7 linked regions of the Homo sapiens genome follow. The protein of the gene in region 1 purifies or fractionates together with the protein of each later gene. This does not show direct contact. Each region holds a gene or a part of one and is shown in the gene's direction. Other genes may lie near its edges.

The links.
Region 2: the proteins of POLL (region 1) and SULT1C2 purify together in Homo sapiens (affinity purification with mass spectrometry; 3 studies listed by BioGRID and IntAct, with this or other methods). This does not show direct contact.
Region 3: the proteins of POLL (region 1) and MED1 purify together in Homo sapiens (affinity purification with mass spectrometry; 3 studies listed by BioGRID and IntAct, with this or other methods). This does not show direct contact.
Region 4: the proteins of POLL (region 1) and CST4 purify together in Homo sapiens (affinity purification with mass spectrometry; 3 studies listed by BioGRID and IntAct, with this or other methods). This does not show direct contact.
Region 5: the proteins of POLL (region 1) and NOSIP purify together in Homo sapiens (affinity purification with mass spectrometry; 3 studies listed by BioGRID and IntAct, with this or other methods). This does not show direct contact.
Region 6: the proteins of POLL (region 1) and SEMG2 purify together in Homo sapiens (affinity purification with mass spectrometry; 3 studies listed by BioGRID and IntAct, with this or other methods). This does not show direct contact.
Region 7: the proteins of POLL (region 1) and QNG1 purify together in Homo sapiens (affinity purification with mass spectrometry; 3 studies listed by BioGRID and IntAct, with this or other methods). This does not show direct contact.

What each region holds. Positions count from the first base shown.
Region 1 is NC_000010.11:101,578,382-101,581,819, reverse strand, and holds the end of POLL (DNA polymerase lambda), read left to right. Parts: intron 1-1,403; coding exon 1,404-1,572; intron 1,573-1,981; coding exon of another isoform or gene 1,982-2,002; coding exon 2,003-2,367; 3' UTR 2,368-2,938; downstream 2,939-3,438.
Region 2 is NC_000002.12:108,298,895-108,302,394, forward strand, and holds part of SULT1C2 (sulfotransferase 1C2), read left to right. Parts: intron 1-1,943; coding exon 1,944-2,041; intron 2,042-3,500. UniProt on the Homo sapiens protein: Sulfotransferase that utilizes 3'-phospho-5'-adenylyl sulfate (PAPS) to catalyze the sulfate conjugation of phenolic compounds. Does not transfer sulfate to steroids, dopamine, acetaminophen, or alpha-naphthol.
Region 3 is NC_000017.11:39,423,764-39,427,263, reverse strand, and holds part of MED1 (mediator of RNA polymerase II transcription subunit 1), read left to right. Parts: intron 1-2,525; coding exon 2,526-2,637; intron 2,638-3,442; coding exon 3,443-3,500. UniProt on the Homo sapiens protein: Component of the Mediator complex, a coactivator involved in the regulated transcription of nearly all RNA polymerase II-dependent genes.
Region 4 is NC_000020.11:23,686,239-23,690,538, reverse strand, and holds the start of CST4 (cystatin-S precursor), read left to right. Parts: upstream 1-1,500; 5' UTR 1,501-1,569; coding exon 1,570-1,797; intron 1,798-3,337; coding exon 3,338-3,451; intron 3,452-4,300. UniProt on the Homo sapiens protein: This protein strongly inhibits papain and ficin, partially inhibits stem bromelain and bovine cathepsin C, but does not inhibit porcine cathepsin B or clostripain. Papain is inhibited non-competitively.
Region 5 is NC_000019.10:49,574,057-49,577,556, reverse strand, and holds part of NOSIP (nitric oxide synthase-interacting protein), read left to right. Parts: intron 1-679; exon of another isoform or gene 680-798; intron 799-2,572; exon of another isoform or gene 2,573-2,966; intron 2,967-3,500. UniProt on the Homo sapiens protein: E3 ubiquitin-protein ligase that is essential for proper development of the forebrain, the eye, and the face. Catalyzes monoubiquitination of serine/threonine-protein phosphatase 2A (PP2A) catalytic subunit PPP2CA/PPP2CB.
Region 6 is NC_000020.11:45,220,210-45,224,172, forward strand, and holds the start of SEMG2 (semenogelin-2 precursor), read left to right. Parts: upstream 1-1,163; 5' UTR 1,164-1,180; coding exon 1,181-1,256; intron 1,257-1,499; coding exon 1,500-3,172; 3' UTR 3,173-3,216; intron 3,217-3,963. UniProt on the Homo sapiens protein: Participates in the formation of a gel matrix (sperm coagulum) entrapping the accessory gland secretions and ejaculated spermatozoa.
Region 7 is NC_000009.12:83,943,243-83,946,742, reverse strand, and holds part of QNG1 (queuosine 5'-phosphate N-glycosylase/hydrolase), read left to right. Parts: intron 1-1,753; coding exon 1,754-1,949; intron 1,950-3,500.

The sequences.
Region 1 (3,438 bases):
AAAAAAAAAGATTGAGTTAAAGTTAGGCTTTAATTAGGCGTAGGATTTTCTTAATGTTGGTTGCTTTTAAGTTAAGATTTGTAGTTGTCCAAGAAATAAGATTTGGGTTTGGTTTAGAGTTGGGTTAGCGATTAGGTTCATGTAAAAGCTAGATTAGAGAGACACTGGACTGCATTTAGGGCTAGATGTATCATTTGTTCAATGGGCATTAGGATTAGGAGCTGCTTGTAATAGGCAAGTTTTGCTCACTTTGGTCAGGGATTCTGATAGAGTGGGATCCCATGGAGACTGGCCTAGTTTGATTGAAATCAGCCCCCAGCTCCATTCCAGGCCACAAGGCTATGAGGCCGGTATGAGATGGATGGACAGGCCTCTTTGTCTGCCCATCACCAGGCCTTGGTGCTAGTGATGACACCGTCACTCAGCCATGGTGTCCGGGCATGGAGAATGCCTCAGTCAGTACCCAGCCCATTGGAACAAAAGAGGCTTCCCACCTGGCCTCCTGTGCCCCCATTTAAGGGCTCCAGCCATAGGAGTTTTGATGGGATTACTCACGTGGACCTCCTCCTTCCATTCTCTTGGGAGGCTCAAGAAGGGAGTAAGGGGATTAGCGGAGCCCTCCTGTCAGGATACTTGAGGTGTCCGGGGCCCCAGAATTTTCAGTGTCCTGGGGTGGAGGCAGGAGGCCATCTGCATATGAAAGAACCTCAGTGTCTCAGGGGTGGAGGCTAATGGGTTTATTTTTCCTCAGAGGGACAATCCTTCAGCTGGCAGTTGCTGTCTCAGCTCCCTCCCCACCAAGAAAGGATGTGGGTGTTGGCTCAGAACTGCCCCCTCTTTGCTTTCTTTCCTCTCCTTTCCCACAGGTGCAGCTGTATTTCTGTGCTCCACTTTCTCCTGGGCCTGGGCCTGGCGCATGCTGCCAGCCACCTGCTCAGTCCTCAAACCCCAGCTCACATATTCCAAACCTTTAGCTCCAAATCAGTAGATATCTGGGGCTGCCTAGACCTGGCTGAGGGCTTTCAGCACCTGGCCCCTTGTCCTAAGTGGAGTTTCACAGACCTGGGCACGTGGGCTGGGGCAGGGGCAGAGAGAGTCTGTGTCTCCCTACTCTTAAAGAGCTCCACAGGGCAAGCTCAGTGCCCACTCTCAGAAGCAGAGCCGGCACCTTCTCCCGTCTCTCCTCAGGCTTGCCTCCTGCACAGTGAGCTTTTTCTTCTCTCCTGTCCTAGCGAAGGGAAAGAACAGCAGCTCCTCAGGGTGGATTCCCCTGGGCTTGCAGCAGGCATCTGGAATGGGCATAAGCTGAGGGTGTGGGCCCGAGTCTGGGAAGGCCCTTGTACTGCTGTGGGAGAGGAGCTCCCCACGCACAGCCCCTCACCTGTCACCGCTCTCTTTCCCAGGTCCAGAAAGCAGCCCAGGCCTTTAACTCTGGGCTGCTGTGTGTGGCATGTGGTTCATACCGACGGGGAAAGGCGACCTGTGGTGATGTCGACGTGCTCATCACTCACCCAGATGGCCGGTCCCACCGGGGTATCTTCAGCCGCCTCCTTGACAGTCTTCGGCAGGAAGGTATAAGCTCCATCTCTGGGTGAGCAGGTTGACAGAGGGCAGCACAGGTCTGGGGGCCCCCTCAGAGGGAGAACCTCAGAAGTTCCAGTCCTGAGGCAGGAAGCAGGGGAACAGTGCTTTGCCAGCATCCCATCTCTCTATCGGGGCCGGAATCCTCTCCAGGGAGAGATGGAACAGCCCCGCCACACCTATGTGGAGGTGCTCAGTGAACCCTGCAGGCCAAGTATCTCATCTGATCTTTCTGTGACACTATGGGGGAGATGGGAATTACTATCCATGTTTTACAGAAAAGGAGAAGGGCCCAGAGAGGGTAGTGTCACCCAGCTAATACCTGGGCAAGCCCCAGCTTAGACATCAGGAGAGACCTGGGAGGATGGGACAGCCCAGGCCTGGTTCCCTGCCCTCCCAGCAGTCCCCTCTGTTGGGCCAGGGTTCCTCACAGATGACTTGGTGAGCCAAGAGGAGAATGGTCAGCAACAGAAGTACTTGGGGGTGTGCCGGCTCCCAGGGCCAGGGCGGCGGCACCGGCGCCTGGACATCATCGTGGTGCCCTATAGCGAGTTTGCCTGTGCCCTGCTCTACTTCACCGGCTCTGCACACTTCAACCGCTCCATGCGAGCCCTGGCCAAAACCAAGGGCATGAGTCTGTCAGAACATGCCCTCAGCACTGCTGTGGTCCGGAACACCCATGGCTGCAAGGTGGGGCCTGGCCGAGTGCTGCCCACTCCCACTGAGAAGGATGTCTTCAGGCTCTTAGGCCTCCCCTACCGAGAACCTGCTGAGCGGGACTGGTGACCCATGGCTGGGGGTGCTGAGGAGAGCCGAGTTGGACTGGCTACCCCTCCTGGCCACCCAGTACTCCCTCCAGCCTCAGCTGGCTGAACCTCGCCGCTCCAACCACCAGCTTCCTCAGCGAGCAGGGCCCAGGGCTCTGGGCCTGAAGCAAGAGCCAGCCCGGCTCCCAGTGTCTGCCCGGCTCCCAGTGTCTGCCCAGCCCTCTCCCAGACAGGAGCAGGCTGCCACCCCTTCTACCTCACCACTGCCCCTCGAAGAATTTTGCAAATGGCCCCTTGCCCCATTTTAAGCAGGAGCAGGTGGCTGGTTTGAAGCCCCAGGTATCCCCCTTCCCTGCTATGGGAAAGGCCAAGCTGCTGGGTGGGGACAGAAGCTGCAGGGGAGAGGGAAGCAGCCGTGCTGTCAACATCATCCGGCACCCTCTGGGGTAGGAGAACAGCCATTCCACATGTGTTCCCTCTATCCGTCCTGCTTCCTGGGCAGCTGGTGGTGCTGGGAATGGGGTGCCCCAGCCTTGGTGAGGACAGTGTTGGGAGGCCCAGGGGCCCAGTAAAGTGCATTTGACATTGAACCTGCCTGGTGTCTGAGCTGCTGCAGCCTCTGGCTACCTTGTTCCACCCAGGCAGGGACGACAGAGATGGGAACTGAAAAGAGGAGCCCAGAAAGGCTGTGTTAACTGCCCTCCAGACAGGACTGGCCTGAGTCAGCTCCTAAACTCACAGCAAGGACAGCAGTGGCTGTGACCAGGGAGAATGTTGGAGCCAGGCACCCAGAGCTCCTATCTAGTCATCAGCATCTTCTGCAGGCCCTACCTTAGACCAGGCTATCAGGGGACATGAGCAAAAGTGACAAGACTCAGGAAACCATTAGGAACAACTAAATGGTGACCGTGTACACAGGGATGGGCGGCCAGGGAAGGCTTCCCGGAGGAGGAGAGAGGCAGACTGGCAGGGAAATTGCCTCTGAGAGGAGTCAGCAGGCTCTGTTTGGGGACAATTAAGGAACAGCTTTAGAGAGGACACTGTGTGCTGGGAGTCAGGAGCAGGCTGGGCTGGCAGAGGACTGGAAGCA
Region 2 (3,500 bases), on another chromosome or scaffold:
AGTTAACTTCTGGTCCAAGCTGGTAGTATAATTTCATATCCATGCATGTAGTATGAAAACAGGATTGTGGTTATGAGCTCTCAAGAAAGCCTCTTTTTCTGCACCCAGAGGCGAGGCAAGGAAATTACCTTACCTCTCTTTGGCAGTAGGTGATCTTTTTCTCTCTCACCTTTCACTGAGGTAGCAGACATTTGAGTTTCTCCGGCTAATGCATGGGTCTCTGTTCCTAATCTGTGCCTCACTAAAGTCCAGGGCTACCAGCCTCTTCCCTGAGCAGAGGTCACTGAACTGAGCACTGGGTGTCCAGAGGGTGAACCCACTCAGGGCAGCTGTCATCAAAGCCTTTGCCCACTTCTCCATCTTGCAGCTCCCTCCCTCTTCACTTTCGTCCCTGGAGGGTCCCCTTATTTTCTTATGAGCCTGATTATGCACTTAAATGATACGTTTGGTGTTTTAATCAGAATCTGCAGGTGTGTGATTAACAGGAAAGATCTTCATAATGTTCAGGCCACCATGTCTCCAGCAGTGAAAGTACTTGGAGAGACCCTTGAAGAGTGAGTGGGACTGTCCAGATGTGTAGAAATGAGAGCCGGAGGGAGCCACAGGGGCGTGGGGCAGCAGGACCAGGGCATGTGGAAGGTCAGAGTGTGAGCTGGCGTAGAGGTGGAGCTGAGAAAAGAGACTAGAGGCAGGAGAGCTTTGCAGTTCTTCTAAGGAATATGGACTTCAAAAATGGTTAAAGGTGGTTTTCCAACTTTTCTTTTTAGTACCAAAACACTTTTTTATTTAACAAAAATTACCATGACTACATGATCCAGCAATTCCACTTCTGGGTATATATCCCAAAGAAATAAAAACAGGGTCTGAAACAGATACCTGTACATCTACATTCAAAATAACATTATTCACAATAGCCAAAAGGTGGCAACAACCCAAGTGTCCACCAATGGCTGAATTGATAAACAAGATGTGGATATACAATGGAACATTACTCAGTCTTAAAGAGGAAGGAGATTTTCTGCACTAACTTGACCCAGCTCCTCTGACATGATTCGCATGAGCCTCTGATTCCCACACTAGAGTGGAAGCTCCTTAGGGAGAAGGCCTGTGTTTTTCTTGTCTTTGTTGCCTTTTCCCCTAACCTCAGCTTAACACGATGATTGCACAAAGTGCTCGTTAAGGCTTTTAAATGAGAGAGTAGAGGCCGGGCACCGTGGCTCATGTCTGTAATCCCAGCACTTTGGGAGGCCAAGGCAGGTGGATCACGAGGTCACCAGATCGAGACCAGCCTGACCAACATGGTGAAACCCCGTCTCTACTAAAAATAGAAAAATTAGATGGGCGTGGTGGCCAAGCGCCTGTAATCCCAGCTACTCGGGAGGCTGAGGCAGGAGAACTGCTTGAACCTGGGAAGCGGAGGTTGCAGTGAGCCGAGATCGCACCACTGCACTCCAGCCTGGTGATGGACCAAGACTCCGTCTCAAAAAAAAAATGAGACAGTAGAAATCATGACTCACAGGCCAGCAAGTATACATGTTTTTAGAGATGAAACAAGTGATTGCAAACAGGCCGGGTACATGAGACAGCCTGCTGCAGGCACATGGGGGTCATCTCTGGCTGGCAGGAAGGTGAGGGAGTCCTCTCTTCTCTGGTCCTGGCTGACTCTGCCTCAGCAGGACTTCACTTGACCATTCTCACCTTCTGTCACCTCATCCTTAAAGTGACAGAGTAAATTAACTCTAAGGCCCCATCCAGGACTCAAGCTGTGTGATTTTACAAAAATGAAAATTATATTAATAATCCCATTGTAAAATCCCAAAAGAAAGTCAAGAGACTAGCAGAAAGACAGGTGGGTGATGGGATGTCCTGGACAGAGCCTGGATCATGAGGTCCCCATGTAGTGCTTGTACTACGCAGATGTTTCCTCTTGAGCTATTTTAAAGGTGTGGAAAAAGCCAAAGCAATGCCCTCTCCACGGATACTAAAGACTCACCTTTCCACTCAGCTGCTGCCACCGTCTTTCTGGGAAAACAACTGCAAGGTAAGATACCAACAGCTCCCTGTGACAGAAGGGAAAGTAAGCCAACCAAAGCGAGTCCTGCAGACCCCAACGCAGAGCATTCGTGATCACCTTTGCCTCTCCACTGTCTCTGATGCTTACCAGCAAAGAGAAAACATAAAGTTCTACATTCAGCAGGACATTCACCTGAACAGTTTCAAATAGGACATGAAGGCAGGATCCAGATTGAATGTTTGGAGGGAACTAGAGACATGGGGAGGCAGTGAGTGCAGTAAGCGTAGCTGTGAAATGAAGGGGAGAAGATGGTGGTCCCAGGCTGCAGGCCATGGGGAGGTTTTCTAACAGACCAGGGAGGGAAGAATGAGAGGAAAAAAGCTAAAGCTCTCCCCAAAGGAGGCCAGGCGCGGTGGCTCACGCCTGTAATCCCAGCACTTTGGGAGGCCGAGGCGGGTGGATCACAAAGTCAGGAGATCGAGAGCACGGTGAAACCCCGTCTCTACTAAAAATAAAAAAAAACTTAGCCGGGCGCGGTGGCGGGCGCCTGTAGTCCCAGCTACTCGGGAGGGTGAGGCAGGAGAATGGCGTGAACCCGGGAGGCGGAGCTTGCAGTGAGCCGAGATCACGCCACTGCACTCCAGCCTGGGCCACAGAGCGAGACTCCATCTCAAAAAAAAAGTTCTCCCCAAAGGGTAAACAGATGAATCAGGCAGAGCAACGCTCTTGAGGACACCCCACCTCTGCCTCTGGTAGACTCTGAGTTCTTCGTTTTATTTATTCTGTGACTTTATTCGTATGCACCCCAGTGCCTAATAAGTTCCTGGCACATAGAGGGCATTAGACACGTCCTTGCTGAGTAAATACGGAAGTGGCTGTAGAGCAGGTGGAGTCAAGGGTACAAACTGAGCCGCCAGCCTTGGTGAGAAAGTGGGGCACTGCTTCCTTAAAGGCAGGAATGAAGGGGAAAGAAGGGCTAAGAAAGATATGTTGCTAGGGGACTGGAGTGAAGTTGGAGGACTCAAATGACTTCACTCCTTTTAGTAATAATGTTGGATAAGGGGACAAAAACTTCCATTTCCAGAATTATGGCAAACTAGGTGTTCTGAACCCCTGAAGCCCTTATATGTAGAACATCCAGGATTACTGCATAAAAAAATCACAAGTTTCCTTTTAATGCATAACTGAGATCAAAATAAAGTCCCTAAGTTTAGAAACTGCAGAGGAAACTGAAACTCAGAGAGGCAAATTGAGACTGGGACTCTCCAGGGGAAATCTGATGACCTGGATAATCCAGCAATTTAAGTTTTAATGGCTGCACAGGGACAGGGTCAAAGCCCATGGCACAAGGAACCAGAAGAATGAGGAGCCAAAGCTGGGACCACTGAAGGGCTACATCCTCAATGGATGGGTGGAGGAGGCAGAGAAAGACCTTAGGGAACCACTCTGCCTTGACCTAGGCGCTCAGCTCCCTTGAGAATGTATA
Region 3 (3,500 bases), on another chromosome or scaffold:
GTTGCAGTGAGTCAAGATTGCGTCACTGCACTCCAGTCTGGGTGACAGAGCGAGACTCCATCTCAAAAAAAGAAAAAAAGTACTTTTGAATAAATAAGTAAATGAGCAACTCATAAGAAGAGATATAAACGATCTGACCTGAGATAATCAGCTTACTCATTGTTTAAAAAGTGTAGAAGGATGGGCCTGGTAGTTTATGCCTGTAGTCCTAGCTACTTGGGAGGTTTGGGCGGGAGGATTGCTTGAGCCCAGGAGTTTGAGACTGTAGCATACCATGATCGTGCATGTAAATAGTCATGGTACTCCAGCCTGGGCAACGTAGTGAGTTACTGATCAAAAAAAAAGTGAAGTTTTCTAAATTAAAGAACTATGGTAATGGACATTATTTTCTGTTTGCCCTTGATACAAGAAAAGATAAAGAGAGATAGACTGCCGGGCGCGGTGGCTCATGCCTGTAATCCCAGCACTTTGGGAGGCTGAGGTGGGCGAATCACCTGAGGTCAGGAGTTCGAGACCAGCCTGACCAACATGGAGAAACCCTGTCTCTACTAAAAATACAAAATTAGCCAGGCGTGATGGCCCATGCTTGTAATCCCAGCTACTCAGGAAGCTGAGGCAGGAGAATCGCTTGAACCTGGGAGGCGGAGGTTGCAGTGAACCGAGATTGTGCCATTGCACTCCAGCCTGGGCAACAAGAGCAAAACTCTGTCTCAAAAAAAAGTGAAATGGACTAATACCTCCTTAGGTCCCTTTGTAGCTTCACTCATTGACTCCATCCCTTTATTGTTTGTTTGTTTGTTTGTTTATTTATTTATTTAAGATGGAGTCTCACTCTGTCACCCAGGCTGGAGTGCAGTAGTGCGATCTCAGCTCACTGCAACCTACACCTCCTGGGTTCAAGTGATTCTCCTGCCTCAGCCTCCCAAGTAGCTGGGACTACAGGCATGCACCACCACACCCGGCTAATTCTTGTATTTTTAGTAGAGATGGGGTTTCACTATGTTGGCCAAGCTGGTCTTGAACTCCTTACCTGAAGTGATCCACCTGTCTTGGCCTCCGAAAGTGCTAGGATTACAGGTGCGAGCCTTGGCGTCAGGCTCCTTTATTGTTATTATAATTTGGCATGGGGGACGGGGTAGGTCTCACTGTGTTGCCCAGGCTGGCGTACAGTGATTTGATCACAGCTCACTACAGCCCCCGAAGTCCTGGGCTCAAGCCATCCTCCCGCCTTGGCCTCCCAAAGTGCTAGGATTACAGGTGTGAGCCAGTGCACCAGCCTGTCCTTTTATTATGATCCTACTTAAATGCATTCTGAAGAAAAAATAAGTAAATATTGATACTGAACCCTTCAAAAATGATGTTTTTGGACTGCATTGTTTCTTGTGTTTTATTTACTGACAAAAATTATTGGTTGATTAGAAAGGTAACTTCCAGGATTTCTAATTTTTTTTTTTTTTTTCCCCAGACAGAGTCTCACTCTGTCGCCCAGGCTGGAGTGCAGTGGTGCGATTTCGGCTCACTGCAACCTCCGCCCCCCAGGTTCAAGTGATTCTCCTGCCTCAGCCTCCTGAGTAGCTGGGATTACAGGCGCCTGTCACCACACCTGGCTAATTTTTGTGTTTTTAGTAGAGATGCGGTTTCACCGTCTTCTGCAGGCTGGTCTTGAACCCCTGACCTTGTGATCCACCCGCCTCAGCCTCCCAAAGTGCTGGGATTACAGGCATGAGCCATCACACCTGGCCTGATTTCTAAGTTTTATAGGAACTACAGGCCGTGCCTGGTGGTTCATGCCTGTAATTTCAGCACTGTGGGAGGCTGAGATGGGTGGATCAACTTTAGGCCAGGAGTTTGAGACCAGCCTGGCCAACCTGATGAAACCCCCATCTCTACAAAACATACAAAAAAATTAGCCAGGCATGGTGGTGCATTCCTGTAATGCCATGTACGTGGGAGGCTGAGGCATGAAAATTTCTTGAACCTGGGAGGTGGAGATTGCAGTGAGTCGAGATCACACCACTGCATTCCAGTCTGGACAGAGTGAGACTCTGCCTCCAATAAAAAAATAAATAAATAGGCTGGGCGCAGTGATTCACACCTGTAATCCCACCTGTAATCCTAGTCCTTCGGGAGGCCAAGATGGGCGGATCATGAAGTCAAGAGATCGAGACCATCCTGACCAACATGGTGAAACCCCATCTCTACTAAAAATACAAAAAATTAGCCGGGCATGGTGATGGGCGCCTGTAGTTCCAGCTACTTGGGTGGCTGAGGCAGGAGAATGGTGTGAACCCAGGAGGTGGAGCTTGCAGTGAGCTGAGATTGCGCCACTGCACTCCAGCCTGGGTGACAGAGCAAGACTCTGTCTCAAAATAAATAAATAAATACATAAATAAATAAATAAGGGAATAACAGCATCTGATAAATTATAGCTGACAAATATTGCAAAAATTAACCTCTTAAAACATACTGTGATTCCCATCATTTGTATTACTTTGAGGAATACCCTTTTTCTTTCCTATCCCCAGTTTCTCGATCTTTGGGCATGAATGCATCAGTGACAATTGAAGGAACATCTGCTGTGTACAAACTCCCAATTGCACCATTAATTATGGGGTCACATCCAGTTGACAATAAATGGTAAGTTAAATATAATTTTAGAGTAGCAAAGTCAATTTTTCTCAAAGCGCAGTATGTAACAAGTTTTAACCTGGCTGTTACCCCACTTGAATTTCTAGAGGTTGGCCTTTTGTTTTATCCATTCATTGGTTTCTCTTTTGTTTGATATCTGAGTGTTCCTCTCCAAAGTCGGCTCGTAGAACACATTCTCTGCACTGAAAGGGAAAGAAGAGAACTGTGCTAATTCCTCTGGCTTAATGAGTGCCCCCTTTTATCTTACGTTCATTAGTTACATTGGAGTAATAACTGGAGAACATGCCTCAGGATAAATGTTTGATTAAATTCTACAGTGTTAACCAATAGCATGTCTGGGAATTGGGGGTAGGAAGTTTCACAGAGTGAGCTTTTGAGAGTTTGTACTTATGTGTCTGTGTGATACATACATGTTTAAGAATAGGTGTTTGTGGCCAGGCATGGTGGCTCACGCCTGTAATCCCAGCACTTTGGGAGGCTGAGGCAAGTGGAACACCTGAGGTCAGGAGTTCAAGACCAGCCTGGCCAACATGGTGAAACCCCATCTCTACTAACAATACAAAAATTAGCCGGGCGTGGTGGCGGGCACCTGTAGTCCCAGCTACTCACGAAGCTGAGATAGGAGAATCCCTTGAACCCGGGAGGCAGAGGTTGCAGTGAGCCAAGATCACGCCATTGCACTCTAGCCTGGGCATTAAGAGGGAAAATCTGTCTCAAAAAAAAAAAAGGTGTTTGGGTTTTTCATTTTTATATCAAGTCAGAATCCAACCCTTCCACCCTCTTTTTTTTGAAGGACCCCTTCCTTCTCCTCAATCACCAGTGCCAACAGTGTTGATCTTCCTGCCTGTTTC
Region 4 (4,300 bases), on another chromosome or scaffold:
CACATACTATTAGGCATTTTATTGTATGTAAATTCTACCTCATTTAAGGCAATTTTTAAAATGCCACGTGAGTCTTCCAAGGAGTGCACAGAGGAAAGGAGCCTGAAGCATGGCTGCCTAGGAGAGAAGCAAGAGAGGCCTGTGGGTTCCCACATTCATCCCGTGGCTGCTGCTCCCTCTCCTGACACCCCCACTGCCTCACAGGGGTCTCCGTGCACCTTCCACCGGTCCTCACCCACAGTTACCGTGAGACTCCAGGTGGTTTCCTCCCTTGCTCACATCCCCTCCAGGAGCTTCCTCTTCCTGGAGCAGGCATGTCCCAACCCCACCTCAGGGCCTTTGCACTGGCTGTTCCCCGCTGCCTGGGGCTGCTCAACCTCTCCAGTCTCATAGAGACCACCCTGACCAGGGTCCAGTGGTCTCTCTCTAGCCCCTGTTCTATTTCACTTCCAACAGAGTGAGTATAACTCCCTGATCCTAATTGTTGATCGTAACCTACCATCCTCTACACACACTGTGTAGGAATTTACTGTGCAGTTCCACAGCCACCAGCCACATGTGCCACAGGACACTTGAAATGGGGCCAGTCCAAAATGATTCCTGGGCTAAGTGTAAAAAATACACAGGGAATTTCAAAGATTTACAAAACCAAAAAAAAAAAACACACATAAACGATCTCATTAATAATTGTTCCCGTTAGCTGAAATAATATTGTGGCTATATTAGGTTAAATAAATATTTTAAACATTACTTTCACCCATTTATTCTCATCTTTTAAAATGCATCTACTAGAAATTTTCAAATGCTTGTGGGTTCATGTCACATCTCTGTGGGCAGCAGCTCTGCAATGTCACCTCTATGGCTCATCATCCAGGTTCCGTCTTCAAGCCCTAGACCTCCTGGCATGGGCAGTAACTGGTGATAGGTTTGTTTATTGAATAATGAGTTATGAAAACAGAAGCCAGTGACCTTTTCCAAAAAGGTTAATTCCCTTAAATTTGGCAAAGAAATTCTCCATATTAGGGTGTGGACAGGGTCTTCTGGAACCTTCTGAAATAACCTCTCTGTTCCAGAGATTCAGAGACCGTGACCAAGTGCTCCTGGAAGCCTCTGATATCTGAAGACCCCGGGAGGCCAAGCCCTGTATTTTTCCCCTTTCTGAGCAAACAGGAAGTCACATTGCTTTCACAGTCAAAGGACCAGTGTCACCTCTGTGGAGACCTGGGTGACTCAAGCTTGGGAGCACTGGGGAAGAGAGGCATGGCTCAGGGAGGCTGCAGTGAGGACTGGAGTGGGGAGGAGGGGGAGATGGAGGAGGAGGCCTGGGAGGGGCAGGGGGAACTTAGGCAGGGAGGGAGCTTGTAGTGGTGGGGGAGTGAAAAGAGAGATGGAGAAAGAGGGGATGGGCAGAAAGAGGAGGAGGAGTCAGGGGCAGGGCATGGAGGTGGGTGGGGCTGGGCTGCCAAAGCAGGATAAATGCACACCTGCCTGCTGGTCTGGGCTCCCTGCCTCGGGCTCTCACCCTCCTCTCCTGCAGCTCCAGCTTTGTGCTCTGCCTCTGAGGAGACCATGGCCCGGCCTCTGTGTACCCTGCTACTCCTGATGGCTACCCTGGCTGGGGCTCTGGCCTCGAGCTCCAAGGAGGAGAATAGGATAATCCCAGGTGGCATCTATGATGCAGACCTCAATGATGAGTGGGTACAGCGTGCCCTTCACTTCGCCATCAGCGAGTACAACAAGGCCACCGAAGATGAGTACTACAGACGCCCGCTGCAGGTGCTGCGAGCCAGGGAGCAGGTGGGTGCTGCCTCCACCCGAGGGGTCCTGAGCCCTAGCCTGGTTTGTTGCCGGACCCCCAAGAGCATTCCAAGCAAATCAACACTGACACATTCATGATCTAATGCTCAGATTCATTCAGCTTTCTCTGACTCTCCGCTGATGCCCTTCATGCCTAAGCATGCTCCCGGTCCATGCACTGCAGACAGTTAAAGGAAGTGCTGCAGCTTCCTTTAACCTGCAGCAGCTGCTGTGTCTGTACCATGACCGTGGCATTTCCCAGCGTCCAGCAGGTGTGGATGGAGACTGTGCTGACTCTGGGTGGGCTTGATGCTGCTCAGGATGAGATCCAGGCGGTGAGGCTCATTCTCCTCCCTGAGTCCTCTCCTCAGGGGCCACATGGGAACCTGGCTCCCTGTTCTGCAGAGCCCTTCTTCCTTCCCCAAGTCATGCCCTTGGGCACAGCCCCTTAGGGCTAGTGGCCTTCACCCTCAGGCAGGCTGACCCACCCCTGCAGGCCAGGATGGCTGAGTCCCTGCTGGGGTGGAGCACGCCTGGCCCTGCCTCTACGAGCTGATGCAGAGTTAGACCTCAGCCAGATGAGGACAGCAGTCACCCAGCAGAGCAGAGGAGGGGTTAGGTCCAGAGTGAGCTTCAGCAGGGCAACTGGGCCCAGCTTGACCTGCATCCCATGGCAGAGCAGCAAATAGTGACACAGCCTTTAGAGCTCCTCCACCTTCTAGAAATTCAAAGGAATCCAGACCAGTCCCGTTTCTCCTCCTACAGCTGTCAGCTGGAGCCCTCACCCTGCACAGGAGGTGCACTCCCTGGTGCCATGGTCCCCGCTGGCCTGCATCTCCCTCTTAAGCATGACAGTAACTTGGAGTGAAGCACAGGGCATTGCAGACCATCAGACCTGGAAGCCTATTTTATACATGGGTAAACTGATACTCGAGGGATCTCAGCAGTTCCTCCTGGTTCCAAAGAGTCCCTCATCCCAGGTTTCTCCACAGCTCTGCCACGTAGTGTCTGGGAGAGGCCCTGTGCAGGGAAAGGGTTCAATTATAATCTGCAATTGTAAGACACTCAGGTGTGCTGCTGACTTGAGAAACGTATCTTGAACCTCACACTTGAAATGGTGGCATCTGGGCGGCCCCATTGACCCAAAATATCTGTGTGTGTGAAGCATCTCATTTCCTACTCTAAGTGAAGTAATAAATCTAGGTTAAATGGAGGGAATAAGATTTTCGTGAGTTAGCTGAAATTTTGTCATCAGACAGCCTTCCTAGAAAAGAGTCAGTGTTCCCTCACCCCTGAGCCACAGGTAGCAGAATTCAATGAATCCTCTTACCCAGCACAGAGAAAACGATGTTTAAGAGCGGGCATGAGGCTCAGCACCCTGCCAGCTGACAGGAAGAGGGGGCTTGTGTGCCTTGTGTTGACATGTGGGCAGCTCACGAAGCCCCCAAGCAAGTCCAGTGACTCAGCCACAGTGAAGTGCCTGTGAGTGCATGAACTGATGGGGGCGCTGTCCGTGCTTCCTGTTTTCTCCTGTGTGCAGACCTTTGGGGGGGTGAATTACTTCTTCGACGTAGAGGTGGGCCGCACCATATGTACCAAGTCCCAGCCCAACTTGGACACCTGTGCCTTCCATGAACAGCCAGAACTGCAGAAGGTACGTTCCTGATGCGGGTCCCGGGCCAGTCATGCACTGCAGAGGGGTGCGTATGTGTCAGCCTCTGTCCTACCCATGTTTGGACGGTGTGTGTGTGCAGGTGGGTATGTGGGGAGCCGTGTATGCATGGATGTGTACGTGTTCATGTACTTATGGGGGGGTGTGCATGTAGGTGTGCATGTGGAAAGGTGCACGTGTGTACACACATGTGCCAGTGTGTGCGGGTAGGTGTATGGAAGCATGTGTGCCTGTGTGTGGGTGTGTGGCGGAAGTATGGGGGTTTGTACATAGATCCATGGGGATGAGGGGTCCAAGTGAGTTTACGTAGTTGCCTATGTGTGTGCAGATGGGGTGGTGAGGGAGGGGGTGATGTGTTTGATTTGCTAGGAAGGCTTTAGCTTGGGAATGGTTACTAGAAGGTCAACTGCCTGCTTTGGGGTGTTGCCTGTTGGACAGGAAGAATCACCTGCGGGGCTGGGTGCTGGGCAGGGAGAAGGGGATCTGTCTAATCCCAGCCTCAGGCACCTGCATGCAGCCAAAGCCACAATCAGATTAGTGGGACCTAGAGGCCTGTTAGCTGGGAAGCCCTGGACCTGCCCGGCTCACCCAACACCAGCCTCTCCAAGAACCTGCTGGTTCTTGTGAGGTCTCCACTCAGGGGAGAGCGGCACTCCCCTTGTTGCCCTTGACCCATGCCCCAGCTCTTTGAGGGGGAGTTGCCCTGCCCTGGGTTCTTCCCTCTGGCCCCTCTTAGTGCTGGCCTGGGTGCTGGAGGTGGAAGGAGCTGGGGGAACTGAGCCACCTCCCCATGTCCTGCACCCTTGGGGCTCCCGAGGCCTTGCCCAGGCT
Region 5 (3,500 bases), on another chromosome or scaffold:
TTTTTTTTTCTTTTTTTGAGACAGAGTCTTGCTCTGTCACCCAGGCTGGAGTGCAGTGGCGTGATCTCGGCTCCCAGGTTTGAGCGACTCTCCTGCCTCAGCCTCCCGACTAGCTGGGGCTACAGGCATGCGCTACCACGCCTAGCTAATTTTTGTATTTTTAGTAGAGATGGGGTTTCGCCATGTTGGCCAGGATGGTCTCGATTTCTTGACCTCATGATCCGCCCGCTTTGGCCTCCCAAAGTGCTGGGATTACAGGCATGAGCCACCGCGCCCCGCCTGCATGGATGTATGTTTTTATTTCTATTGGCAGTGGAATTGCTGGGTCAAAAGGTGACTATTTAACCTTTTGAGAAACTGTGACTTTTCCAGAATGGCTGTACCATTTTACATTTCTACCACCAATGTATAAGGGTTCCAGTTTCTCCATATCCACACCAGCACTTATTATTTATCTTTTTGATTATAGTCATTCTAGGGGGTGTGAACTGGTGTCTTTTAACATGCTTATTGGCCATTTGTAGATCTTTGAAGAACTGTCTATTCCAATCCTTTACCCATTTTCAAATTGTGTTAGGTGTCCTTTCATTATTGAGTTGTAAGTTTTTAATATATTCTCACTGCAATTCCCTTATCAGATATCCTGATTTTTTTTTTTTTTTTTTTTTTTTTGAGACAGAGTTTCACTCTTGTTGCCTAGGCTGGAGTGCAATGGTGCGATCTTGGCTCATCACGACCTTCGCCTCCCAGGTTCAAGTGATTGTCCCATTTCAGCCTCCCGAGTAGCTGGGATTACAGGTATGCACCACCACGCCCAGCTAATTTTGTATTTTTAGTAGAGATGGGGTTTCTCCATGTTGGTCAGGCTGGTCTCGAATTCCCAACCTCAGGTGATCCGCCCACCTCGGCCTCCCAAAGTGCTGGGATTACAGGTGTGAGCCACCTCACCTGGCATTTTTTTTTTTTTCCCCAGAGACAAGGTCTCACTCTGTCACTCAGTCTGGAGTGCAGTGGTGCAGTGGCACGATCATAACTCACTGCAGCCTCAACCTCCTGGGATCAAGTGATCCTCCTGCCTCAGCCTCCCAAGTAGCTGGGACCACAGGCGCATGCCACTATGCCCGGCTAATTTTTTAAATTTTGTTTTGTGGAGATGGAGTCTTGCTATGTTGCCCATAGCAAGTTCAAGTCTGGTCTCAAAAACCATGCTGCTGCTGCTTTTTTTTGGTAGAGACAGGGTTTTGGCATGTTGCTCAGGCTGGTCTTGAACTCGTGAGTTCAAGTGATCCTCCTGCCTTTGCCTCCCAAAGCACCCTATCCAGGTATGAGCCACAACAGCCAGGAGATATCTGACTTTTGTAACTGCTACCTGTTTTTGTTCAGCCTGCAAACTAAAAATGGTTTTTAACATTTTTTTTTTATAAGATGGAGTCTCGCTCTGTCGCTCAGGCTGGAGTGCAGTGGCGTGATCTCCGCTCACTGCAAGCTCCACCTCCCGGGTTCATGCCATTCTCCTGCCTCAGCTTCCGGAGTAGCTGGGACTACAGGCGCCCGCCACCACGCCCGGCTAATTTTGTTTTTGTATTATTAGTAGAGACGGGGTTTCACCGTGTTAGTCAGGATGGTCTCAATCTCCTGACCTCACGATCTGCCCGCCTTGGCCTCCCAAAGTGCTGGGATTACAGGCGTGAGCCACTGCGCCTGGCCTGGTTTTTAACGTTTTTACATAACTGGAAAAAACCAAAAGAATGAATTTGGTGACCTATGACAATTATATGTGATTCCGTGTCAGAGTCTAAAAGTAAAGTTTTATTGGAACACAGCCATGCCCGTTTGTGTGTCTGTGGCTGCTTTTATGCTACAGGGGCTGAGTGGAGTACTTACAGGGGCTGTTTGGCCTGCAAAGTTCAAAACATTTACTCTCTGGCCCTTTTTTGTTATTCCCTGCTATATCCTCTGACTTCCTAGAATCAGGAAATTGAATGTAAAGACTTGATTAAATTTCCATTCAGCTGTCAGGTGATTACTTCAGAGCTGGTCGCTTCATGTTGCATACTGCCTGGGTGCCCCATTTTCAGGGGTAGTGAAATTCATTCAGGCTCAGGCAGCATTATAGACTGAATGTCCCCCCCAGATTCGTATATTGAAGCCCTAATTCCCCAAGGTGATTATATTTGGAGGTAGGGCCTTTGTGGAGATAATTAAGGTGAAAGAGTGGGGCCCTAATCTGATGGATTGGTGTCCTTATAATAGGAGGAGGCTGCGCATGGTGGCTCATGCCTATAATCCCAGCACTGTGGGAGGCCAAGGCAGGTGGATCACATGAGATCAGGAGTTCAAGACCAGCCTGGCCAACATGGTGAAACTCTGTCTCTACTAAAAATACAAAAATGAGGCCGGGCGCAGTGGCTCACGCCTGTAATCCCAGCACTTTGGGAGGCCGAGGTGGGCAGATCACGAAGTCAGGAGATAGAGACCATCCTGGCTAACGTGGTGAAACCCCCTCTCTACTAAAAATACAAAAAAATTAGCCGGGCATGGTGGCGGGCGCCTGTAGTCCCAGCTACTCGGGAGGCTGAGGCAGGAGAATGGCATGAACCCTGGAGGCAGAGCTTGCAGTGAGCCGAGATCACGCCACTGCACTCCAGCCTGGGTGACAGAGCGAAACTCCGTCTCAAAAAAAAAAAAAAAAAATTAGCCAGGCATGGTGGTGGACGCCTGTAATCCCAGCTACTTAGGAGGCTGAAGCAGGAGATTCACTTGGGCCTGGGAGGCGAGATCCGCCGCTGCACTCCAACCTAGGTGACAAAGTGAGACTCCTCCCAAAAAACAGAAGGAGACACCAGAGAGCTTTCTCTCTGCCACTGAAGATAGCCATCTGCAAACCAGGAAGAGGGTGTCACCAGAACCCCACAATGCTGGTAGCCTGAACTTAGACTTCCAGCCTCAGGAACTGGAGAAAATAGGTCTGTTGTTTAAGCCACCCAGAGTGGTGTTTTGTTATGGCAGCTGGAGCAGACTGAGACAGGTGGCAGCCATCGAAAACCGCATTGTAAAGCTACAACTGTGTATTTTCCAGTAGCAAGAATTAGCATCCTGTGACTATCCAGGCCCCATCAGCCTCTCCTTTAATGCCATCCATCAACAATCATTGCCTGAGTCAGCTATTTCACCAGAGGTTGCAAAATGGCAGTTTTCCTATTCTCCCATTTCTCTTACACTTAGTCTGAATAATTTGGTTTTTGTCTTGAGTCATGTCCAAGAAGCAGTTGAAGAGAGTGACTTAATCAAACTTCCATTCTGAAAAGCCCCCCTGAGGCTGGTTTGTCAAGGAATAGACTGAGGAAGAGGCCAATTTCTCCAAGCTTCAATTTTCCTACCTATTAAATGAGCAAGACTGGGCGCGGTAGCTCATGCCTGTAATCCCAGCACTTTGGGAGGCCGAGGTAGTAGATCACCTGAGGTCAGGAGTTCAAGACCCAGCCTGGCCAACATGGTGA
Region 6 (3,963 bases), on another chromosome or scaffold:
AACAAACAAAAAACCTTCCTTGGATTTTTCAAGAAGTTTTCACAATTGCAAAAAAACAAAACAAAACAACACAACACAACAAAACAAAACAAAAGCAAAAAAACCCTATGCTTCCACCCAAGGTAAAAATTTTAGCTTTAGGTCCACTCTCAATACATTATTTAATGAACTGAAGTTGGCAAATATTCCTCACAGCCTGTTGGAGGGTTCAGCAGTTTATTACAGAAGTATGAAATGCTTTTATTTAAAAAATGTATTTTGGTAAATACATTTTTGTTTAGGTAAATATCATCAAATAATCCAATTTGGAAACCAACATTCTTACTTCTTTTTCCAACAGTTGTTCCTATCATCATAAAAACATGTTAAATTTTTCTCATCCTTTCAAAAAATCTCTGGAGCTTACCTCACCCTCCAGATACAGCCTCACCTCTCATTCCACCATGAAATCAGACTTCTTGAGATGGTTTCAGCTGGACTCCATCCTTCAACTGACAACCCAACACAACTGTATTCATCTCTCGTTAACATTACTAGCAGTGAGTAACATCAGAAAGTTTTTGACACATGTTAGTCTTTTTTGTGATGAACTTCACAGATACATTTGACATTGGTATGCCTCATTTATTTGTTGAAATTTTTTTCTTTGGCTTCCATGAAGTTTCTTTCTCTTCTGTATCATTCTACTTCTATGACTGCTCCTTCTCGAGTAAAACAGAATGTGTCTCAGGATTACTTTAAAACAAGACAAAGTATAGAGTTATACCTAAAATTTAGTATTTAAGTTATTGGATCAGAAAGGAAACTCGCATTTAGAGTATGAAGGCATTGTCAGCCACCAATTACTTTTGTAACCTGAAGCTAGTCTCCTTCCTACTCCGGACTGAATTTCTTCTGTATAATGCAAGCGATCTGGCATGATGATATACAAAGACCGATAAAATTTTGCTGGGGATTCTGAAAGTAAAAAAAATTGCCTTTGATATTATGTCCCCATGCTAAGTCCCTGGGGACTTTGACATTATCCCCCACTGAGCAGGGGTGAGGAAGCTGGCATTTACTAATAAGCTATGAAAGGGCAGTGCCTTTTGACATTTCAGCTCCACCCATAGCACACCCACTCAAGGAACATATAAATGAAGAGATCCGCTCAGTTCTCAGACAAGATTTTTCAAGCAAGATGAAGTCCATCATCCTCTTTGTCCTTTCCCTGCTCCTTATCTTGGAGAAGCAAGCAGCTGTGATGGGACAAAAAGGTGAGTGGAGAGGGTAAGCCTTGGGGAAAGCTACTTTAAAAAAATGGCCTCTAAGGATATTCAGGGTGCAAACAGTAACCTGTTCAGGCACAGATTCTTCTCCTTGATGAGAATTGATTTTTCTCCACCCAACGCTGTAGGCTTTTGGAAATATCAGAAATTTGTTGGGAAAAGGTGGGAGGTAAGAGTTGCAAGAGAGCTTTGGAGATAATGAATGCATACATTTCTATTATCAATTACCAGGTGGATCAAAAGGCCAATTGCCAAGCGGATCTTCCCAATTTCCACATGGACAAAAGGGCCAGCACTATTTTGGACAAAAAGACCAACAACATACTAAATCCAAAGGCAGTTTTTCTATTCAACACACATATCATGTAGACATCAATGATCATGACTGGACCCGAAAAAGTCAGCAATATGATTTGAATGCCCTACATAAGGCGACAAAATCAAAACAACACCTAGGTGGAAGTCAACAACTGCTCAATTATAAACAAGAAGGCAGAGACCATGATAAATCAAAAGGTCATTTTCACATGATAGTTATACATCATAAAGGAGGCCAAGCTCATCATGGGACACAAAATCCTTCTCAAGATCAGGGGAATAGCCCATCTGGAAAGGGATTATCCAGTCAATGTTCAAACACAGAAAAAAGGCTATGGGTTCATGGACTAAGTAAAGAACAAGCTTCAGCCTCTGGTGCACAAAAAGGTAGAACACAAGGTGGATCCCAAAGCAGTTATGTTCTCCAAACTGAAGAACTAGTAGTTAACAAACAACAACGTGAGACTAAAAATTCTCATCAAAATAAAGGGCATTACCAAAATGTGGTTGACGTGAGAGAGGAACATTCAAGTAAACTACAAACTTCACTCCATCCTGCACATCAAGACAGACTCCAACATGGACCCAAAGACATTTTTACTACCCAAGATGAGCTCCTAGTATATAACAAGAATCAACACCAGACAAAAAATCTCAGTCAAGATCAAGAGCATGGCCGGAAGGCACATAAAATATCATACCCGTCTTCACGTACAGAAGAAAGACAACTTCACCATGGAGAAAAGAGTGTACAGAAAGATGTATCCAAAGGCAGCATTTCTATCCAAACTGAAGAGAAAATACATGGCAAGTCTCAAAACCAGGTAACAATTCATAGTCAAGATCAAGAGCATGGCCATAAGGAAAATAAAATATCATACCAATCTTCAAGTACAGAAGAAAGACATCTCAACTGTGGAGAAAAGGGCATCCAGAAAGGTGTATCCAAAGGCAGTATTTCGATCCAAACTGAAGAGCAAATACATGGCAAGTCTCAAAACCAGGTAAGAATTCCTAGTCAAGCTCAAGAGTATGGCCATAAGGAAAATAAAATATCATACCAATCTTCGAGTACAGAAGAAAGACGTCTCAACAGTGGAGAAAAGGATGTACAGAAAGGTGTATCCAAAGGCAGTATTTCTATCCAAACTGAAGAGAAAATACATGGCAAGTCTCAAAACCAGGTAACAATTCCTAGTCAAGATCAAGAGCATGGCCATAAGGAAAATAAAATGTCATACCAATCTTCAAGTACAGAAGAAAGACGACTCAACTATGGAGGAAAGAGCACGCAGAAAGATGTATCCCAAAGCAGTATTTCTTTCCAAATTGAAAAGCTAGTAGAAGGCAAGTCTCAAATCCAGACACCAAATCCTAATCAAGATCAATGGTCTGGCCAAAATGCAAAAGGAAAGTCTGGTCAATCTGCAGATAGCAAACAAGACCTACTCAGTCATGAACAAAAAGGCAGATACAAACAGGAATCCAGTGAGTCACATAATATTGTAATTACTGAGCATGAGGTTGCCCAAGATGATCATTTGACACAACAATATAATGAAGACAGAAATCCAATATCTACATAGCCCTGTTGCTTAGCAACCACTTGAAAAGCTGGACCAATAGCAAGGTAAGTTTGCTTTTCTTACCAAATAGGAGAGGTGCCTGTCCCAAAGTTGGGGACTCTCCAGGAACATGGTAGGACTGATAACCATTGTTCACATCAATAGAAGTGCTATATTACAAGTGGTGGGAAGATGAACACCATTTCCTGGCGAGTAGAGGACCTGGTAGTGGCAGGGAAGGCTGCTTGGACTATCACTGGGTCCTAGAATTCCTATTCTTAATTGAGTATTCTTCAATAATATTTTTATACATGCCTACCTGCTAAAGATTTTTTTGAACATGCACTGACTATATATGCATATTTATGAGTTTATGGTATACTCTTGTCAATTCTTATACTTTAGATTAGTAAACCTCAAATTCTTTCTCATATAGTATGAAATATTACAGCAGTTAATATTTTCTTTCTGCACATACATGAATGTTCTTGCATCCCTGTTAGAGTTCATCTATGCTCCTTCAGAGACCACAAGCCCAAAGACTAGCAGTCCACTCTCTCTGAATATAGGAAAGATATGAGTAGAAAGAAGGATTCCTGTTCAGATTGTGAAAAAGGAAGTGGAAATGGAGGTGCAGGAGATGCTGAGAGATCTCAGGTGCTAACTGGACACTTGCAATGTCAGGAGAGGAAAATTTTAACCTGGATTGGGGAAATGGTTCTTCCATGCCCCTTTGCAATAAGTAACACTGTACCTGAAGAGAGGGTAAGCAGCAGAAACAATGGTCCCAGCTGATAACTAGTGACCTGGTG
Region 7 (3,500 bases), on another chromosome or scaffold:
GACAGGGTTTCGCCGTGTTTTGTAGAGATGGAGTTTCATCGTTTTCCAGGCTGGTCTTGAACTTCTGGCTTCAAACAATCCTCTGGCTTTGGCCTCCCAAATTGATGGGATTACAAGTGTAAGCCACCACACTTAGCTAGAATTTTTTAGTTAAATTATAACCCACTAATGCTTGGTTAAATTTGTCTTTTCTATGTATAAATATAATTGGCTATTTTATTTTCATATTTGGACTTACATATCAACTTTGAGCATTTCCAAAATTGGTAAATATGATCATTTTCTAGCTGTTGATCAATTAATGTCTTCATAAAATAAGTTAATCATATTATCTGAAAGGAAACAGTTAAAAATGAATGTTGTGGTTCTCTTCAGACCTGAGCTTATGGATGATTATTCTTTGTATGTTGCTGTATTTTTTTTTAATTATTATTATTTTTGACAGAGCCTTGCTCTGTTGCCCAGGCTGGAGTGCAGTGGTGCGATCTCGGCTCACTGCAACCTCTGCCACTCAAGTTCAAGCAATTCTTCTACCTCAGCCTCCTGAGTAGCTGAGACTACAGGCGATCGCCACCACACCCAGCTAATTTTTGTATTTTTAGTACAGACGGGGTATTACCATATGGGCCAGGCTGGTCTCGAACTCCTGACCTCGTGATCCTCCTGTCTCAGTCTCCCAAAGTGCTGGGATTACAGGCGTGAGCCACCATGCCTGGCCTATACTTGGCTGTATATTATACAATTAATGTGAATTATATTGCAATCAGAAAAACAGACGTGTTTTAATTTAAGAAACTTTCAAAAGGAATGCTATCTACACATTTAAAATAATAAGCCCTTGGGCCAGGCACGGTGGCTTACACCTGTAATCTCGGCACTTTGGGAGGCCGAAGCGGGCAGATCACAAGGTCAGGAGATCGAGACCATCCCGGCTAACACAGTGAAACCCCGTCTCTTCTAAAAAAATTCAAAAAATTAGCCGGGCGTGGTGACGGCGCCCGTAGTCCCAGCTACTCGGGAGGCTGAGGCAGGAGAATGGCGTGAACCCAGGAGGCGGAGCTTGCAGTGAGCCGAGATTGCACCACTGCACTCCAGCCTGGGCGACAGAGCAAGACTCCGTCTCAAAAAATAATAATAATAATAAGCCCTAGGATTATATTGCAGAAATCTGTATATGAAGTAATGCCATTGAAAAAGAATAGTAAGTAGTATCAAGATTACATAAATTGTATTTTATGTGCCTTGAAAAATGGGAAGCGAGTTTGGAGTGATAGAAAATTTAATGTTCATTAAATCCTTTTGTTTCTTGTAAAAGATCTATGAATTTTTTTTTTTTTTTTTTGAGACAGGGTCTCCCTCTGTAACCCAGGCTGGAGTGCAGTGGTGTGATCACAGTTCACTGCAGGCTTGACCTCCCAGGCTCATGCGATTCTCCCACCTCACCTCCTGAGTATCTGGGACCATAGATGTGTGCCACCACGCCCAGCTAATTTTTTTTTTTTGTAGAGTTGGAGTTATGCCATGTTTCACAGGCTGGTCTTGAACTCCTGGGCTCAAGCAATCTGCCCACCTCAGCCTCCCAAAGTGCTGGGATTACAGGCGGGAGCCATGGTGCCCGGCCAATCTATAAATTCTTACCAACAAAGTAAGATTATTCTGCCTTTTAAAAAATGTTTCAACTGCACCTTTAAAAAATAGCATATATAAAGCTTTCAGATACTCAAATAACGTTTATATTCTCTTCATTCATCAGGGGAAAAGAGTTTCTTTTTACAAACGAGCCCAAATCCTTGTAGCAGATACGTGGAGTGTATTGGAAGGAAAAGGAGATGGCTGCTTCAAGGACATCTCCAGTATCACCATGTTTGCTGATTATAGATTACCTCAGGTTCTTGCTCATCTTGGAGCCCTGAAATACTCTGATGACCTACTGAAGAAGCTTCTCAAAGGTTTGCAACTTTAAGTCATTCTTTGTTATACTATGAATTGTTGGATCTCGGTTTAGTTTCTTTTACAAAAGGTCTCCTTTGCTTTAAAAAAAAAGTACTATTTATTGTTCATAGTATATGTAAAAAGGAAAATGCAAAGACAAAATGTAGAGAAAATGATTTTTCTTTTTGTTTACACTGTGAAATGTGGATATTGTAGAAAATTGTGCTATTTGAACATTATAATTTCATAGCCTAATGAAACCTAAATTTATGTTACATGAAAGTATGTAACACTGATAGTTCATCAGTTATAGTATTTGAAGAGTGTTAAGCTGAAGAGCACACTACATGGTTATATGAAGGTAGGTTGAAAGATAGGTAATATGAATTGGCTTTTGAGTGAAGAGACTCCAAGGTCTGCACTGGGATATCTTGCACAAGTCACTCACTTCCTTAGGCTTATTCGCCATTATTGGATATGATTATTGATATCAAGACTAGGAGCCTTATGATATATAAGCTTAGGTAAATTGGGTTGAAAAGTTTGTGTGAAAATTAGCTTATAACATTTCCTTGTATGAGGAAAATAATTATATGATTTTCATGTTAATTTCTCTTTTAGGTGCAAAATTTTCTGCTACTTTTTTCTTTATTTTATTTTATTTAAAAAATATGTTGCCCAGGTTGGTCTTGAATTCCTGGGCTTAAGCAGTCTTCTCACTTCAGCCTTCCAAAGTGCTGGGATTACAGGCGTGAGCCACTGCACCTGGCCTCTTTATGTTTGTTTGTTTGAGACGGAGTCTCACTCTGTTGCCCAGGCTAGAGTGCAGTGGTGCGATATTGGCTCACTGCAAGCTCCGCCTCCCAGGTTCAGGCCATTCTCCTGCCTCAGCCTCCCGAGTAGCTGGGACTACAGGCGCCCGCCACCACACCTAGCTAATTTTTTGTATTTTTAGCAGAAACGGGGTTTCACCGTGTTAGCCAGGATGGTCTCGATCTCCTGACCTTGTGATCCACCCACCTCGGCCTCCCAAAGTGCTGGGATTACAGGTGTGAGCCACCACCCCGGCCTTATGTATTTTTTTAAAAGAAGTAGATTCTATGATTGAATAATTTCCTCTTGTGAAATAGATTTGAATCCCCCAGATCAGAATAACACAGAATATAAAGGTACCATTATTCCTATGGTTGGCTCTACTGGGTTTTTATGCTGCCATGGGCAATCTGTTTTGTCTTCCATTTCCTCATTTGAAAAAGAACATGCTATTTTTTGTCATCATGCCCATGTCAAGGGTCACTAATTGTTGGATACCTTTAAAAGGGACAACATTTAGCAATCAGGGCTTATTTTTCATATGGCCATATTAAGCTGCTTTTTTTTTGTTTTGTACACACTGTTCATTCCTGTCTCTGAGTATTCTCTTACGTGGTTTCCATCGTCCAGTGTTCTTTCTTTTTTTTTTTTTTTTTTTTTTTTTTTGAGACGCTCTGTTGCCCAAGCTGGAGTGTGGTGGCGTGATCTCGGCTCACCAGAACCTCCGCCTCCCAGGTTCAAGCCATTCTCCTGCC